2 separate regions of the Homo sapiens genome follow, and region 2 is linked to region 1. Evidence: fine-mapped expression QTL. Tissue or cell type: atrial appendage. Region 1 holds a variant in brackets; the other region holds the start of a gene. All regions are shown on one strand. Distances are from middle to middle.

Region 1 (2,687 bases):
GAGTTGCCTTGGGAATTTTAAAGTCAGAGGAAATCACTTCATTTGAGGGATCAGAAACAGGCCTTTGAGGACCAGTGGGATCGACAGGCTAATCTGTGGGCACACCTCAGGCCAAGGTTATATCCTGAGTAAAAACAAACAAGCAAACCAAAAGAGACAATGGGGCATTTTGTGGAAAATATGAAGGGTCCTGAGTGGCTTAATCATAGGGAATATTGGGGGTTGAGTCTAGAAACCCAAGTAAGGATCATATTGTAGGAGACCTTAAATGTCAAGGCGAGGAAGAAATTTACTCTGGTGGCTTTTTTCACTGGTTTCTGCCCTGCTGACCTCCCTTTCCAACAACTAACTTTTGTCCGCCTTGCTTCTCTCTTAGGTGCCTTTCTCTCTCCCTTCGCTCCTTGTTTTTGTTTTAATTATTATTATTATACTTTAAGTTCTAGGGTACACGTGCACAACGTGCAGGTTTGTTACATAGGTATACATGTGCCATGTTGGTTTGCTGCACCCATCAACTCGTCACTTACATTAGGTATTTCTCCTAATGCTATCTCTCCCCCAGCCCCGCCAACCCCTGACAGGCCCCAGTGTGTGATGTTCCCTGCCCTGTGTCCAAGCATTCTCATATCGCTCCTTGTTTTTTTTAATAATTCTTATTTTCCACTTCAATTTAACCCACTGCAAGCTGGTTCCTGTACCCAACTTCTGAAATTACTCCTGCTGAGATCTCTGTACATCTCAGAGTTCTTGGTTGCAAAGAACTGAACCAGCTCTGGCTAGAGGAAGCAGAAATGGGATTTTCTAGGGAAGGGTGCAAATGGCTCCCAAGATTGAAAGGAAGGCTGGAAAAGAAAGCTTAGAAAACAGAAAGGAACCAGGAAATATCCGACAGCCCAGGACCAGCCACCAGAACAAGCTACTTAGGTCTTCATTGCTGTTGCATCCTCTCGCTGCACCTCTGCCTTGACTGGTCTGACTGCCCCAACTCTTTGCATCACTCTTCCAAGAGTCAAAGTCCTCCATGGCAGCATCCACTGGTTGAGCTTGGATCAAGGGGTCTGGCTTCTCATTCAGAAAAAAAGAAGTATTTACCCTCACCTCAGATTCTTTTTTTTTTTTTTTTTTGAGATGGAGTCTTGCTCTGTCACCCAGGCTGGAGTACAGTGGTGCCATCTCGGCTCACTGCAAGCTCTACCTCCCAGGTTCATGCCATTCTCCTGCCTCAGCCTCCCCAGTAGCTGGGACTACAGGTGCCTGCCACCACACCCGGCTAATTTTTTTTGTATTTTTAGTAGAGATGGGGTTTCACCGTGTTAGCCAGGATGGTCTCGATCTCCGGACCTCGTGATCCGCCCGCCTCAGCCTCCCAAAGTCCTGGGATTACAGGCATGAGCCACCGTGCCCGGCTACCTCTCAGATTCTTAGTGAGAGGCAGAGTCCCCCAAATAGTGAAATATTTGAATGAGTACAAACTCACCCAACTGCTGAGCCAAATAACCTCTTTTCAGCCTTTATCCCACTTTATCCCTGCATCGTTCCTCACCATCAGCATCCAAACCTTCACCTCTCACCTT[CTTAAAA/C]TTATCTCTTCCAAGCTTGGTGTGGTGGATCCCACCTGTAATCCCAACACTTTGAGAGGCTGAAGCAGGAGAATTGCTTGAGCCCAGGACTTCAAGACCAGCCTGGGCAACATAGTGAGACCCCCCCTCTCTCCCAAAAATAATTTTAAAATTAGCCTGGCATGGTGACATACACCTGTAGTCTCAGCTACTTCAGGAGGCTAAGGCAGAGGATAGCTTGAGCTCAGGAGGTCAAGGTTGCAGTGAGCCATGATCCTGCCACTGCACTCCAGTCTGAGTGACAAAGGGAGACCCTGTCTCAGAATAATAATAAAATAAAATTCTTTCTTCCTTCAGCATCCAGGACATGGCTTTTTTCCTGGTTCTTTTTTTTTTTTTACTTCTGGCCACTCCTTCTTCTCTATTTGCTCCTGAAACTTTGAGTCTCCAAAACTCCTTCCTTGGTACATGCTCATTTGAAACACTCCCTTGGGTAATTACATTCATTTCCTTTGCTTCAAATGTGACCCTCAATCTTTTGCTCCAACCTGGACTTTCACTATGAGTCTCAGTCCCATGGGCACCTCAATATTAACATGTCCAAATGGAACTTTAATGGAACTTTAATCTCCATCCCTGCAGGCCTGCTCCCCTTTCTGACCCTAAGTCACAGCTGACCCAGCTAAAAATTCAGTCATCCTGAGTCCCCACGCATGTATATTAGTCACCAAAGTCTCTTCACTCTACCTCAAAATTATCCTTTACTTACTAAAGTATGTTAAAAGTCTCTTGACTCTACCATCTTGCTTCTCAATTAGCTTAGACCTTTATGATCTCAGGAGGAGAGTGGTAGTAGGCGGGGTTGAGATGGGGTGGATGCAGGAATAACTAAGAAGATAAAGGATGCAAAGGTGGATTGTGGAGAGGGAGAGGACAGAATTTAGGGTGATCCCAGGTTTCTGGCCTGAGCAACTAGATGGACCAAAAGAAAACTGTGAGACTTTAGAAGAGCATCTAGTTTGGTAGTTCAGTGTTGAATATGTTATGTTAAAATGGGACAACCAGATGCAAATGTCCAGCAGGCCACTGATATATATAATAATGTGAAGGTGGGAGAAAGAACAGAAT
Region 2 (2,687 bases), 220 kb after region 1:
TCAATGGGATTTTTTTGTTTGTTTAAGAGATGGGGTCTCACCATGTTGCTCAGGCTGGCCTTGAACTCCTGGGCTCAAGTGATCCTCCAGCCTCAGCCTCTCAAAGGCTGGGACTACAGGCATGTAGCACTTTGCCTGACTCAAGGGGAATTTTTAGTAAGAGTATATAATCCAAGTCTGTAGCAGTTGGAGGATGTCGTACCACGCTGAAGTGTCACACATAACTGATGACTCAGTCCCCCAAGCCTATTTTATCATCGTAAAGAAAGCTATTTCTTTGATTATTCCAACTCTTTCAGCACCAGGACTGCTGCAGGGGCTGGATTCATGCTACCTGTAGTTGCAGTGTAAATTATGTGTCAGAGCCAAGATCCTAGGAAAGTCAAAGACTAGGTTACAAGAGCGATTCTTTTTTTTTTTTTTTTTTTTTTTTTTTGAGACAGAGTCTTGCTCTGTCGCCCAGGCTGGAGTGCAGTGGCACAGTCTTGGCTCACTGCAACCTCCGCCTCCCTGGTTCACGCCATTCTCCTGCCTTAGCCTCCCGAGTAGCTGGGACTACAGGCGCCCGCCACCACGCCCGGCTAATTTTTTGTGTTTTTAGTAGAGACGGGGTTTCACCGTGTTAGCCAGGATGGTCTCGATCTCCTGACCTTGTGATCCGCCCGCCTCGGCCTCCCAAAGTGCTGGGATTACAGGCTTGAGCCACCGCGCCCGGCCAAGGACGATTCTTTCTAATCTTTGGTAAGCCAGTTTTTACAGAATGAAATGCTCTTGGATTGACTGACTTGATTGGGTAAGTATTCATTGGGCTCTTGTTCCATGCAAGGGCAGTCTACAAGGGCCTAGATATGGGGGCCCCCAAAGAAGAAAAATCGGTTTTTCATCATATTTTCTGGTTGAGTTTCTTCCTTTATTATATTTGTTACATATGTTATTAAATTATTTCCATAAAAGAGGTTATGCTGAGCAGGTAACCAAATTCTTGTTCCCCCAAAAGACATGTATAATTCAGACGATTTATGCAATTAGAAGAAGGGAGACTTCATCAGTTAATAAAGTCTAGAACGTGAGGAAGCCCAGTCATTTCCAGGACCTTCAGATGCCCAAGCTGGATCCAGGTTTTCCACCCCGACAGCTCCAGGGAGCACGCTGGAGAGACAGACTTCACCAGCGGGAAGGCGCGGCACCCTACGCGCAAGGAACCTCAAGTCCCAGAATCCTATGAGGACTCCAAATCCCAGAAACCTGCACGCAAATCTATCCCGGGTGCCAAGTCGGCCGACCGCAGACGTGACCAAGTTGCGAGGCTAGGGTGAGGTGTCGTAGAATTTGTCCCTACCATTGTCCCTGCAGGGAAGAGACTTTAGTGATCTAGAGCTGGTCATTGTCTCTTTCACAGCTCGCGTGAAAGCACCCCTCTCGGCGTGTTTGATGCCATGATCAGCGTCTCCCATTCCCTCTGTCCCCTTTCTCTGCCCCCGTAAGGATGGTTCAGCCCGGTATTGAGGCTCCTTGAGCTGGCTGGATGGTTGCGCCCGCCCTACCCCGGAATGTGGGCCTTTGGAGCGAGCGAAGTGGGAGGGACCGACGCAGGAGGTGTCTTGGGCCCGGGCGGCTGTAGAGGCGGCGGCGCCTACGGGCAGTGGGAGGAGCCGCGCGGTTCCGGCTGCTCCGGCGAGGCGACCCTTGGGTCGGCGCTGCGGGCGAGGTGGGCAGGTAGGTGGGCGGACGGCCGCGGTTCTCCGGCAAGCGCAGGCGGCGGAGTCCCCCACGGCGCCCGAAGCGCCCCCCCGCACCCCCGGCCTCCAGCGTTGAGGCGGGGGAGTGAGGAGATGCCGACCCAGAGGGACAGCAGCACCATGTCCCACACGGTCGCAGGCGGCGGCAGCGGGGACCATTCCCACCAGGTCCGGGTGAAAGCCTACTACCGCGGGTGAGTGTCCTGGGACAGGGCGGTGGGCGGGAGGGGACAGGCCGGCTCCACTCGGCCTGGAGGAGGGGAGGGTGAGGGGCTGGAGGTGTTGTGGGCGGATTGGGCTGGGCGGGCGGGCGGCTCCGGTGACTCAGGGTGAGTGACGAAGTGATAGGGGTGGGGGCGAAGCAAGGGGATGCAGTACTGGGGGCGCCCCCAGGTATGGCGGTGCGGGGAGCCGAGGGGCCAGAGTAGGGTCCGAGAAGGAAGCTAGGGTTAGAGTAGGTGCACCTGGTGTGGACGAGAGACTCGCCTCCTGAGAGCTTTGTAGGGGCCTTGCATCCTTAAGTCTGGGTGTATTTGGGGTTGCGAGTTGAGGATTCCAAGTGATGCCTTAGTTAACTCAGTTTGCTGTGGGGATAGAAAACGGGACTTCTTCAGTTAGCTGTCCGTTTTGATTACCAGCAGGCCTAACGCCTCTGGTTCTCTGAGATATACCTCCATCCCCGTTGTGTTCACGTAGTGTATCTGCACTGCCAGTATATTAGACATAGGGGTTGTATTTAAGAATCAAGTCGATGCGTTTTCAGGGACGTGCAGTGGGTACTTACGTGTCGTCAAGATTAAGTTGCATGTGTGTAAATCAAAATTTTGTGAGCCTTTCTTTCTCAGTGTTGTTTCAACGACTACCCGATAGGGTGAGATACTGCAAGGTGAGGAGACTAGCCTAGTTACAGTTTTAAATTCTCTGATCTTCACTCCCTTACTATGGTTA

What was found. PIP is the estimated chance that this variant, and not a neighbour inherited with it, causes the effect.
Region 2: PRKCI starts here. The variant in region 1 is fine-mapped to the expression of PRKCI in atrial appendage (GTEx, PIP 0.99).

Annotation. Positions count from the first base shown.
Region 1 is chr3:170,004,149-170,006,835 of GRCh38, forward strand. No RefSeq gene overlaps it. Among named protein-coding and RNA genes, the nearest start is that of GPR160, 33 kb to the right of the region's middle. The variant CTTAAAA/C (reference allele first, on the strand shown) is at 1,575.
Region 2 is chr3:170,220,838-170,223,524 of GRCh38, forward strand. PRKCI (protein kinase C iota) reads left to right here and starts at 1,587. Exons shown (of 18, transcript NM_002740.6): 1 at 1,587-1,933. The coding sequence starts at 1,833. RefSeq lists enhancers at 1,118-1,177, 1,248-1,307, 1,318-1,477 and a silencer at 1,658-1,947.